Linked DNA regions of Homo sapiens. The protein of the gene in region 4 interacts with the protein of the main gene of each other region in a biochemical or structural test. Each region holds a gene or a part of one and is shown on either strand. Other genes may lie near its edges.

Region 1 (3,500 bases), on a different chromosome or scaffold from region 4:
ACATATGTGCCTATGGAAGTTCATTTACCACCAGAGGTAAGAGTTACTGTTTAGAACTGAGTTATAGGCATAGAAATCATAGCATTTCCATTTTGCTTGTCATTTAAAAATAGATACTTAGAAAAAAATAGAGACCCAGGGTCTCGCTGTATTGCTCAGGCTGGTCTTGAACTCTTGGGCTCAAGTGATCCCCCCCGCCTCAGCCTTCCGAAGTGCTGGGATTACAGGTGTAAGTCACCAGGCTTGGCATGGATACTTTTAAAAGTGTATGTCAGTAAGCGCACCAACACCAAATACCAACTGCTTTAATGTTTTACTTTTGTACTTAGAAGTCCAGTTAAGCACATAGCTAATAATGCCAAATTTCTGGGTTCAGGGTCAATTTCCCTGGCTCTTCTTCCATCTTCCCAGGTTATACCCCTCACTCTACCTAGCTATTAAGAATTCTTGCACATATTTCACCCATAGGTGGGATTGCTAAATGATGGGTCCTTGATTAAATCTATCCTGACTCCTGGTAAACTGTCTAGTCCAGGACTGAAGCCCATAAAAGGGATTAAGGCTAGACAGATAGATATTGAGAATCCTCCATGGAGATGATTATGAAGGCCCAGGGAGTAGATTTCTCTCAAAGAGGAAGAAAAAACAGCAGAGGCAGAACTTTAGAAAAGGCTCACATTTGGCAGATGGTAGAAAGAGGAACCTGTGAAGGAAACCAATGCAGAAGCAACAGTGAAATAAAGGAAGCAGCATAGTGCAGAGGCACAAAAGCTGCTGCAGGTGAATGTTTCAAAAGAGGGGATGATTAAATGTTCAGAGAGAGCAAAAGGTATAAATCCTAATAAATCCCATTTGATTTGGTGGTTGGGAGATCATTGTTTTTCATCAAAGTGATTGGTGGACCTACTGGATATAGTCTTAAAATTTTCCAGAAACTATATCACATGAGGTAAGTATAAAAATGGTAAATGTGGTATTGGATACAGAGCTTAAATAAAGCCTTATTTTATTTACTTTAGATGGTAAAACTTCAGGAGATTTTCAAGACATTTTACCTAGGCAAACATAGTGGCAGGAAACTTCAGTGGCAGTCAACCCTAGGACACTGTGTGTTAAAAGCAGAATTTAAAGAGGTAAGTGGATGTTCCCAAAACTTTTAGTTTTCATCTTTATCTTTAATGTTTAGGTCATCCTTCTTAACTGAAAGTTTAGGCTATTGTTTTTTGTTTTCTTCTTTTTTTTTTTTTTTTTTTTTTTTGAGACAGAGTCTCACTCTGTCACCAGAGTGGAGTGCAGTGGCGCTATCTTGGCTCACCGCAACCTCTGCCTCCTGGGTTCAGGTGATTCTCCTGCCTCAGCCTCCCGAGTGGCTGGGACTACAGGCGTGCGCCACCATACCCAGCTAATTTTTTTTGTATTTTTAGTGGAGACGGGGTTTCACCATGTTGGCCAGGATGGTCTCTGTCTCTTGACCTTGTGATCCACGCGCCTCGGCCTCCTAAAGTGCTGGGATTACAGGTGTGAACCACCGCATCTGGCCAGTTTAAGCTGTTGTTTTATAATTGTATCCTAGATATCCGCATGATGACAGTGATAGTTTGTCATAGCTTTATGTATTTTTAAGTAATTTTAGGTGTGTGGTCTTTCCACGATTGATTTGGCCCTTCTGCAAAATGAAAAGCAGTGAACTTTCCCCCTACCCTTTCCTCACCTGTGGATGAAAACTGTACACTGCCACTTCCTATTTTTATTTATTTGTTTATTTTTAGAGATAGGGTCCCACTCTGTCACCCAGGCAGGAGTACAGTGGCACAATCATAGTTCACTGTAACCTCAAACTCATGGGCTCAAGCTATCCCCCTGCCTCCGCTTCCTAAAGTGCTGGGATTACAGGCATGAGCAACTACACTTAGTCTAACACTGCCACTTCTTGACAGAAATCTTGTTGCTGGGAGCTACGAATAGAGTGGGAGTTAAGGGAAACAGTGTGCAATATCTAATCTCAAAAAACTTTAGCTTTTCATGACTAATCTGAGCCAAACAAATCAAAAATACATTTGAAATAGTGATTTCTTGCTGCTTGTGATGAATATCTAGAATGACACATAAGGCTGATTAATTTTCATTACTGTATTCTATTTATAAGGCTTAAAAAAAAACTGTTAAAAGGTCAGCTAATCCTTCCCCCTATTTTAGGTAGGGTCACACCTAAACCTCACACTGAAATACTGTATTACCACGTCAAGTGGCTTTGCTGGATAATGCTAATCATGTTTCTAAATCCACTAATTGAAAAATGCTTTTCCTATAAGAGATGATTAATTTTTCATGTGTTTTTAAAAAAGTGATGACTAAACACTTTTATTTCTTCAACAGGGTAAAAAGGAACTCCAGGTCTCTCTTTTTCAAACACTGGTGCTGCTAATGTTTAATGAGGGAGAGGAGTTCAGTTTAGAAGAGATCAAGCAGGCAACTGGAATAGGTTTGTAGCAAACATTAATTGTTCACTATGTGCACACCACTATGTTAAGAGGTCTGGGGGACATATTTATAGGAATAATTCCTTGCCTCAGAACTGTTTTGAGTTTTTTTTTTCTTTTTTTTTAATGAGACAGGGTCTCACTCTGTCACCCAGGCTGGGGTCCAGTGGTACAATCATGGCTCAGGCTCAAGTGATTCTCCTGCCTCAGCCTGCCAAGCAGATGGGACTACAAGTGCATGCCACCGTGCCTGGCTAATTTTTAAAATTTTTTTTTGTAGAGACAGGGTCTCACTATGTTGCTTAGCCTGGTCTCAAACTCCTGGGCTCAAGGGGTCTTCCTGCCTCAGCCTCCCTAAGTACTGCAATTACAGGCATGAGCCCCTGCAGCCAGCCAGAACTCTTTTTTTTTCCCCTCAAGACGGAATCTTGCTCTGTCACCCAGGCTGGAGTGCAGTGGCGCGATCTCGGCTCACTGCAACCTCTGCCTCCTGTGTTCAAGCAATTCTCCTGCCTCTGCCTCCCGAGTAGCTGGGATTACAGGCGCCTGCCACCACACCTGGCTAATGTTTGTATTTTTAGTAGAGACGGGGTTTCACCATGTTGGCCAGGCTGGTCTCGAACTCCTGACCTCGTGATCCGCCTGCCTCGGCCTACCAAAGTGCTGGGATTACAGGTGTGAGCCACCGCGCCTGGCCAGAACTCTTTATATAACCATAGGGAAAGGGGGAAATGACACTTGAAATAATGTCAAAACCCATAAGTACTGGCTTGTGGTACTGACTATAAGTGTGGTAAGAGTGCAACAAAGCAAGAGATCACCGTGGACTGGCACAATTGGGAAAGCTGTCATGAAGCAAGTGGCATTTGAGCTGGGCCTTCAAGTTTTGGTCAGGGAGAAGGCATATACAGCAAGGGGAAATATTTTGAGATGAGGTTGGGAGGTAGGAATGGGCACAGTATAGGCCCATGAAGAGCTTAATTGTAGCATAGAATCATGAAGAATCATGAAGAGCTTAAT
Region 2 (2,649 bases), on a different chromosome or scaffold from region 4:
TTCCTTGGCCTCCCAAAGTGCTGAGATTGCAGGCATGAGCCACCACGCCCCAATCATGTATATTTTGAGGCTATTAAAAAAAATCTGCATTATTCAAAAGAGGAAACAGCGACCCATTGGAGGTGGCAGAGGTATAGCAGCAGCTAGCATTTATTGTGCACCAACTGAATGCCAAATATTGTCCTGTGGGCTTTGGATGGTTTAATTCACTAACCATCATGGCAGTCCTCTGAGATAGGTGCTCTTCTGCTCTTCTTCCTATAGATGGGGAAACTGAGGCACAGAGGGGGGAAGTCACCTGCCCAGGGTTGCTCAGCTAGTGAGCCAAGGAGCCTGGATTCAAACCAGCATCCAGCTTTCTCTGGAATACCATGGAGGGTGGTGTGGTGGGGATGCTGGGGTGGGTGCGGCTCCATCACCTGGTGGAGCCTCCATCCCTTGCCCTCTGCAGGTGAAGCTGTGTGACTTTGGCTTTGCTCGCATCATCGGCGAGAAGTCGTTCCGCCGCTCAGTGGTGGGCACGCCGGCCTACCTGGCACCCGAGGTGCTGCTCAACCAGGGCTACAACCGCTCGCTGGACATGTGGTCAGTGGGCGTGATCATGTACGTCAGCCTCAGCGGCACCTTCCCTTTCAACGAGGATGAGGACATCAATGACCAGATCCAGAACGCCGCCTTCATGTACCCGGCCAGCCCCTGGAGCCACATCTCAGCTGGAGGTGCCTGGGGCCCGCCTACCCCATGGGCGGGTGGGTTGTGGGGTGGGGCTGGAGAAGTGGGCGGAGCCATGAGAGGGGGGTGGACCCGGAAACAGCCTGGCACCTTGGGGGTGGAGCCCAGTGCTGGGGCGGGCCTACTGGAGGGATGTGGCTACAGGAGGAGCCGTCCTGTAAAAGATGGGCTGGGACTCAGGCCTAGACTAGGTTACTTGGGCTGGAAACCAAGTGCCCCAGAAGCGCTGAGGACACTTGGAACCTTAGGGGGGCTGAGTGAGACTTGGCTTGTCTAGGGTGGGACCAGGAAAGGGACTGGACTTGAGGGTACCAAAGGGCTGCGGTGACCAGGAGAAGGGGCTGAGCCTCCCAAGGCATTGGCTGGGACCTGGAGCCTTTGGGTTTACGACCCCAAAAGGGTCAGCCTTGCAAAAAGGAGGCACCGGTGGGTAGGGTTGAGAAACAAGGGCATGGCTACTTTGCTGTGTACTGGGGCCGTGACTTGGGTGAAGATGGGCCTGAAGCCTGGGGTCGGTTCAGTGACCAAGGGAGCCAGTCTAGGGACGTGGCCGTGGAGGGTTTCCGAAGAGGTCCAGGAACAGGGCTGACCCTGAGTCCTGGAAGCTGGGAGTGGATGGGAGTGGGGAGGAGAAGGGAGCCAGGACTGAGGCAGACATTGCACTCTGCATTCTGGGGCTTTGGTGTTGTGGCTGGGCCTGATGAAGTGGCACCGGGCCTGGTGACTTGAACCTACTTGGGAATGGGTCTGTAACTTTCCCTGCTTGGAAAAGTTAAGTCCTAAGGCCTGGAGCTTTGAGGCTGGGTGTGGGATGGCATGTTTAGAGGGCCAGAGGCAGGGCTAAGATACTGGGGTGTGTCAGAAGCCAGGAGAACAAGGGACCTGTGTTGGAGCCAGGGAGCTCAGGAAGACAGATGGAGTATGGGAAGGGGGGGGATCATTCATTCATTTATTTATAACCATTTATTCAACAAGTACATTCATGTATTTGTAACCATTGATTCAACATGTTGAGTGCCCACGATGTGCCAGGCATTGACTGTTCCAGCTCTGGGAATACTGTGATGACTTGGACAGAAGGGGTCAGGTGCAGGGTAGCTCATTGAGTGGTCCGCGAAGGGTGGAAAGGGGAAGGGTCCTCTCTGGAGGGTGCGGCTTCATGGAGCAGGTGGAGCAGGGTGACACGGAGGTTGCTCGGTGCAGGACAAGACAAGGTCTTGGTGGTGGTCTAAGAGCATGGGCCCTAAGCAGTGAGAATGTGGATTGACTTGAGTCCTGGAGTAATATTGGGGGTGCTCAACACTGGCTTTTTTTTTTTTTTTGAGGTGGGGTCTCGCTCTTTCACCCACGCTGGAGTGCAGTGGCGTGATCTCGGCTCACTGCAACCTCCACCTCTTGGGTTCAAGGGATTCTCCTGCCTCAGCCTCCCGAGTAACTGGGATTACAGGCACACAGCACCATGCCTGGCTCATGTTTTATATTTTTAGTAGAGACAGGGTTTCGCCATGTTAGCCAGGCTGGTCTTGAACTCCTGACCTCAAGTTATTTGCCCGCTTCAGCCTCCCAAAGTGCTGGGATTGCAGGCATAAGCCATCACACCCCGCCAGCATTGTCTTTTGAGACCCACTCAGAAGTCCCTCAGTAAAAGTGCATCGAGTGTGCACAAGTGAATTTAAGTGTGGTTGCACCTGTGTGAGGATCACAGAATCCTGTGGGTGTTGACGGGAGCAGGGTGCCTGTGTGCACCAGGCCTCTCCTCGGATGGGTTCATACAGTGAAGCCTTGTCCTTCATGGCTTCCCATCAAGGAGAGAGCCTCGGATGAGTGCTGGCTTGTCTTGAAGCTTGACATTCGCTAGTCCTCTTTTTCACAATGAACAGGCCTATCTCTGAGCCTTCTGCAGGCAATGGTGACTAA
Region 3 (3,500 bases), on a different chromosome or scaffold from region 4:
GGTGGAGAAATTAGAATCCTTGTGCATTGCTGGTGGGGAATATAAAATGGTGTAGCTACCATGTAAAACAATTTTAACAGTACTTAAAAGTTAAACATGGCCGGGCATGGGAGCTCACGCCTGTAATCCCAGCACTTTGGGACCTCAGATCACCTGAGGTTAGGAGTTTGAGACCAGCCTGGACAACATGGTGAAACCACCCCATCTCTACTAAAAATACAAAAAACTAGCCGGGCGTGGTGGTGTATGCCTGTAATCCCAGCTACTCGGGAAGGTGAGGCAGGAGAATCGCTTGAACCCGGGAGGCGGAGGTTGCAGTGAGCCGAGATGGTGCCACTGCATTCCAGCCTGGGCAACAGAGGGAGACTCTGTCTCAGAAAAACAAAAAGTTATACATAGAATTACCATATGATCTAGCAATTCCACACCCGGATATATATACCCCAAAGAACTGAAGGCAGGAACTCAAAATATGGTGCAGGTGTAGTATCCCTTATCCAAAATGCTTGGGATTAGAAGTGTTTTGGATTTTGGATTGTTTCCAATTTGGGAATATTTGCATGTACAGAATGACAGATCGTGGGGAGAGGACCTAAGTCTAAACATGAAGTTTATTTGTGTTTCATATGCACCTTATACACATAGCCTGAAGGTCACTTTATACCATATTTTAATAATTTTGTGCATGAAACAAAGTTTGAGGATACTGAACTATCAGAAAGCAGAGGTGTCAGGTGTGGTATTTTCCACTTGTGGCATCATGCTGGCACTCAAAACGTTTCAGATTTTGGAGGATTTTGAATTTTGGATTTTGGGTTTAGGGATGTTCAACCTGTATATCCATATGATGGAATGTTATTCAGCCATAAAAGGGAATGAAATTCTGATACATGCTATGAAACAGATGAACCTTGAAAACATTATGCTAAGTGAAATATGCCAGACTCCAAAGGAAATACATTGTGTGATCCTTTTGCTAGGAGCTACCTAGAATTCAGAGACAGAAAACAGAATAGAAGCTACCAGGGGCTGGGAGAGGGAGGAATGGGGAGTTACCGTTTAGCAGGTACAGAGTTTCAGTTTGGGATGATAAAAAAGTTCTAGATATAGATAGTGGTAATGGCCGCACAACATTATGAATGTACTTAATGCCACTGGATTGTTCACTTAAAAATGGTTAAAATAGAGAATTTTATGTTAAGTATATTTTGCCACAGTAAAAAACTTTTTCCTTATAGGAGCAATAATCCTCATTATAGAAAACATAGAAAATTATATATTCTTAAAACCTATCCATAGTTTTGCCCTACACCCAAAGATAAAATGTTAACACTTTGGTATTTTTCCTTCAAGTTTTTTTTTTCCTAGTTTTATTTGTATTTTGCTGTTAACGATTGTCTGCTATATAAATAAGTGGTCAAAAATACTAGCTAAATGAATACATGCATGATCTAGGGGAGAATGACAGAGGGTATTAATTATGTTCACACTTTGTAGCATTCTATATATTGTTTTTGTCTCTTTGCATGTTTATTTTTAGAGATCAAATCTGCCTCTGTCGCCCAGGCAGGAGTGCAGTGGCATGGTCATAGCTCACTGAAACCTCCAACTCCTGGGCTCAAGCAATCCTCCCAGCTTGTCCTCCCAAAGAGCTGGGATTACAGGCATGAGCCACCTCACCCAGCTGTATGTTTATTGTTTTTAATTAACATGAAAAGGGTTTTTTGTTGTTTTTTTTCTTGAGACAGAGTCTCACTGTGTCCTCCAGGCTAGAGTGCAGGCTCAACCTCCAGGCTCAAGAGAGCCTGCCACCTCAGCCTCCTGTGTAGCTGGGACAACAGGCATGCGCCACCACGCTTGGCTAATTTTTGTGTTTTTTGTAGAGATCGGTTTTTGCCATGTTGCTGGTTTTGAACTGGCCTCAAGAAATCCACCCACCTCAGCCTCCCAAAGTGCTGAGATTACAGGCACGAGCCACCCTGCTTAGCCTAATATGAAAAGTATTTTTGTTATTTTAATTTTATCAAATTGATTTTCTTTTTATAGTTATTTTTATTACACAAATATGTTAAGTACAAAGTCCTTTTGAAAGATTCAAACAGGCCAGACATGGTGGCTCACGCCTGTAATCCCAGCACTCTAGGAGGCCGAGGCGAGCAGATCGCTTGAGGTCAGGAGTTCAAGACCAGCCTGGCCAACATGGTGAAACCCCATCTCTACTAAAAGTACAAAAAAATTAGCTGGGTGTGGTGGTACACGCCTGTAATCCCAGCTACTCGGGAGGCTGAGGCACGAGAATCACTTGAACCCGGGAGGTGGAGGTTGTAGTGAGCCCAGATTGTGTCACTGCACTCCAGCCTGGGTGACAGAGTAAGACCGTCTCAAAAAGAAAACCAAAAAAACCCCCAAAGATTCAAACAATGCAGAATCACATAGAATAACATCCAAACATTCCTTCAGCACCTACTCTTCCATTCTCTAGAGGTAAGCCTTATCCAGAGTGTGATGCATATCACTCTTATTCTCTCTCTAGGAATTTGCACACACATTCCAGAAATATATATATATTTGAGACACAGTTTCACTCTGTTGCCCAGGATGGAGTGTAGTGGCACAATCTTGGCTCACTGCAACCTCCACCTCCCGGGTTCAAGCAATTCTCATGCCTCAGCCTCCTGAGTAGCTGGGATTATGGACATGCACCACCATACCTGGCCAGTTTTTTTTGTATTATTAGTAGAGACGGGGTTTTACCATGTTGGCCAGCTGGTCTCCAACTCCTCACCTCAAGTGATCTGTACAACTCCGCCTCCCATAGTGCTGGAATTACAGGCATGAGCCACTGCACCAGGCCAAAATATATATATCTTTAACATTAAAAGGACCACACTGTAAGTATTGTTTTGTGACTTATTTTTTTCACTAACAGCTAATCTTGAAGATCTTTCTATATCATTACATGTTAGTTTCCACCTCTTTCTTTTAAATGGCTATTAGTATTCTGTAGTTTAGATGAATCATAATTTAGGGCAGTTACTTATGGACATTTGAGTTGTTTCTAATTTTTCACTCTTATAAACTAAGGTGCAAAGAATGGAAACTACATCTTTGAGTGCACGTGAGCAGTATAGATTACTGAGAGTAGAACTGCAGCCAAACTTATGGGCTTGTGGAGTTTGTTGGGTGCCTCACCTTCTAATAAACTTCGCCACTCTTACCAACACTGCAGAAGACTGCTTGTTATTCTGCATTTTCACCAACACACTGTATCACTAATCTTTCAAAAATTTCAATCTAATGGATGAAAAATTGTAACGGGTTCATTTTGCCTTTCTCTGTTGGCGAGGCCAAATATCTTTTCTGAAGTATGTTGTTCAGTTTCTTTTTTGAATTGTCTATGTTCTTTGTCTATTATTTTTCTTTTATTTTGGTTTTTTTGTTTGTTTTTTTGAGACGGAGTCTCACTTTGTCACCCAGGCTGGAGTGCAGTGGCTCCATCT
Region 4 (3,479 bases):
GGATAGAATATCCTTGTTAGTTATATAAAAATAAACTTTTTTTTGCTTTTTGCAGATTTGAAATTTAATTAAGCTATTAACTTCTTAATCATCACATCCTCCAACTCTGTTTTAACTCCCCCCTCCCCCTCCCCTTTTTTTTTAAGGAATAAAGGGATTCATTCCTCATTTTAACTGATGTTACAGTGAAGATGGGTTCTTGAACTCTTGGAAGCCTGGATGAGCCACCTAATCTGCAAGATAAAAACCAAAGACCAATGCGTATTGGGGAAAAGAATGCTTAGTACTGCAAGACTGTTGAATACCTGTTGAATATTCCTATTGAGGTTTTTTCCTAAACATACTTCAGTAACATCTTAGGACAATTCACTGGAGAAATGTTGATCCCTGGCTGGAATGTCATACCATTGACCCATTTGAAGAGTTAAAGCTGGATTTGACTGCTCTATTCTACCAGGAATATTGTTAGGGTAGCCTTTTACCAGTTTCTAAACAATTGTAATCATTTATTGACTCAGCAATTCCTCAGATAACAGGTCAAAAGATGTACAGATACATTCTGAAGTTTTCTTGCTATTAAAGGCACAAGAGTTTCCTTGTATTTTGACTGACAATGTAGCATGTTTCCATTTTAGTTTGTTAGTGATGGTGGTTTTCCCTTTGAAAGCCATTTGGTATATTCACCATAACAATTAGTTTAATATGATTACATAAGAAAACTATGATAAAACCCAGCAATTTTAGTAGTTGTGAAAATACGTTTTTTAAATCATGTTTAAGAAGAATTGCAAGACTTGAAACCAAATCCTGATGGGGGAATTCTGTTTAATCCTGTTTAATCTGTTTAATTTCTGTTTAATCCTTAGTTTCTTAACCTGCATAGCTTATCCTGTATTGTACTTTTTTTCTTTTTTAAACTCCCAAACAAGAAGCTTGAAACTTTTCCTGTATTTTAAAATTGAAATTTGGTCACAGGGTATAGTCAGATTTTTATTAAGGTTTGGTTTGACAACCTTTAAAAGAAAGGTTTACCTCGCTAATACTTCTTAATAACATGCATCAAATGATATTCCCTATGGTGAAGTATATTCTCAAAGTTATGTTATCTTTCATTTTTGGCATTTGGTGCTTATGGACTTAGTACCCAGGCAACAAAGATCTATTATGCACCTACTCTCTTGTATGTTCGCTATTATTTCCCAAAAAAAAAAAGGGGCATATATGCATAAGAAATAAATATTAGAATTATTTTGTTTCTCCCACAAAGCCCATGGGAGATGGCCCAACAAATGTTTAAAAAGTAAAAGAAGCTGGGCACGGTGGCTCCCACCTGTAACCCCCACACTTTGGGAGGCCATGGCGGGTGGATCACGAGGTCAGGAGTTTGAGACCAGCCTGGCCAACACAGTGAAACTGTGTCTCTACTATAAATACAAAAATTAGCCAGGCATGGTGGCAGGCACCTATAGTCCCAGCTACTCAGGAGGCTGAGGCAGGAGAATCGCTTGAACCCAGGAGGCAGAGGTTGCGGTGAGCCAAGATCATGCCACTGCCCTCCAGCCTGGGTGACAGAGCGAGACTGTCTCCAAAAAAAAAGAAAAAAGAACTAAAAGAAAAGGAGCAGTTTATGATTGAAGAAAACATGACCTGGGCTGAAGAAGTGAGGATTGATTGGAGTGGGCTAGAATGAGCTATAGTTTCTAGCTCATTTGTAAGGAGGTAGACAAAGGAGCATTGGTGCCTCAGAGTGGGTGTCTGGTGAGAGGAAAAACGGTGCTTAAGAGATTTTCAGGCTATTGCTGTGGGACAGGCATATTTTCTCCCTTTGCCTTTAGCTGTAGATAAAGTGTGGTTATGACCTGAGGCTTCTTGTATTCAAACTTGGCCTAGGGCCTATGTAGAGGCCCTAGGGTCTACTTGTGGTGGAGGAGGGAAGTATTTGTAGAATGTGTAGGCTTGAGAAGTAAATAAAGCCAAAAAAGCATCACTTGCTTACATTTTTAAATGAGTCACAAAACAATCTTTCTAATGCGGCCGGTAAAGAAGTTTTAAAGGTCTAAGGTTTCTCTACAGAAATTACATGCTTCTCAGGTCTTTGTTTAGTAAAATAATACAGATAATTATGCTTTGAATGCATTTATTATTAAAGCTAACCGTTTTAATTTGTGTCAGAAATAATTTGTGCCTATGGTAGGATTAAAATTGTATTCTTTAGTTAAAGCAAAGCAATCTGTTTTTCATTGATTTGATAAATATGTGAATGCCTAATATGTTCTGCATATGTAAAAATGCAGAAACATGCTCATTTGAATTACTAATAATTATTTTAGTATGCTGAGAGGCTTTGAATTCACTGTACCACTCCTTCCTAGAGTCATTCAAAACAGAAAAAATTAGTTTTAAGTATAGATTCATGTTTTTCTGTTTTAAAAAGTTGAGCTAATACTTTTCACAAGAGACGAAATAACATGAGCCACTATAATTATTGGCTCAGTTCCACCCAATTTCCATATTTTGGGTGTAATTTAAAATTTTTGACTTGGAATTTTAACTTTTTTTTTGTTTTGATTTTTTACCAGGTTTCTAAGCATGAATTGAGGAACAGAAGAAGCAGAGCAGATGATCGGAGCAGCATTTGTTTCTCCCCAAATCTAGAAATTTTAGTTCATATGTACACTAGCCAGTGGTTGTGGACAACCATTTACTTGGTGTAAAGAACTTAATTTCAGTATAAACTGACTCTGGGCAGCATTGGTGATGCTGTATCCTGAGTTGTAGCCTCTGTAATTGTGAATATTAACTGAGATAGTGAAACATGGTGTCCGGTTTTCTATTGCATTTTTTCAAGTGGAAAAGTTAACTAAATGGTTGACACACAAAAATTGGTGGAGAAATTGTGCATATGCCAATTTTTTGTTAAAACCTTTTGTTTTGAACTATACTGCTTTGAGATCTCATTTCAGAAGAACGGCATGAACAGTCTTCAGCCACAGTTGTGATGGTTGTTAAATGCTCACAATTGTGCATTCTTAGGGTTTTTCCATCCCTGGGGTTTGCAAGTTGTTCACTTAAAACATTCTTAAAATGGTTGGCTTCTTGTCTGCAAGCCAGCTGATATGGTAGCAACCAAAGATTCCAGTGTTTGAGCATATGAAAGACTCTGCCTGCTTAATTGTGCTAGAAATAACAGCATCTAAAGTGAAGACTTAAGAAAAACTTAGTGACTACTAGATTATCCTTAGGACTCTGCATTAACTCTATAATGTTCTTGGTATTAAAAAAAAAGCATATTTGTCACAGAAATTTAGTTAACATCTTACAACTGAACATGTATGTATGTTGCTTAGATAAATGTAATCACTGTAAACATCTATATGATCTGGGATTTTGTTTTTATTTTGAAATGGGAGCTTTTTTGTTTACAAGTTCATTAAAAACTAAAAACTGTTTCTGTAAGGAAATGAGATTTTTTTTAAACA

Evidence for each region. Proteins that work in one complex are often made in the same cells at the same time.
Region 1: of the proteins of CSNK1A1 (region 4) and CUL4B, one has a biochemical effect on the other in vitro, tested with the Homo sapiens proteins (one study listed by BioGRID).
Region 2: of the proteins of CSNK1A1 (region 4) and PRKD2, one has a biochemical effect on the other in vitro, tested with the Homo sapiens proteins (one study listed by IntAct).
Region 3: of the proteins of CSNK1A1 (region 4) and RIPK1, one has a biochemical effect on the other in vitro, tested with the Homo sapiens proteins (one study listed by IntAct).

Annotation. Positions count from the first base shown.
Region 1 is NC_000023.11:120,533,463-120,536,962, reverse strand, and holds part of CUL4B (cullin-4B), read left to right. Parts: coding exon 1-36; intron 37-1,019; coding exon 1,020-1,133; intron 1,134-2,376; coding exon 2,377-2,482; intron 2,483-3,500.
Region 2 is NC_000019.10:46,676,466-46,679,114, reverse strand, and holds part of PRKD2 (serine/threonine-protein kinase D2), read left to right. Parts: intron 1-451; coding exon 452-719; intron 720-1,658; exon of another isoform or gene 1,659-1,975; intron 1,976-2,649.
Region 3 is NC_000006.12:3,099,494-3,102,993, reverse strand, and holds part of RIPK1 (receptor-interacting serine/threonine-protein kinase 1), read right to left. Parts: intron 1-3,500. UniProt on the Homo sapiens protein: Serine-threonine kinase which is a key regulator of TNF-mediated apoptosis, necroptosis and inflammatory pathways.
Region 4 is NC_000005.10:149,495,961-149,499,439, reverse strand, and holds part of CSNK1A1 (casein kinase I isoform alpha), read left to right. Parts: intron 1-2,579; coding exon 2,580-2,587; 3' UTR 2,588-3,479.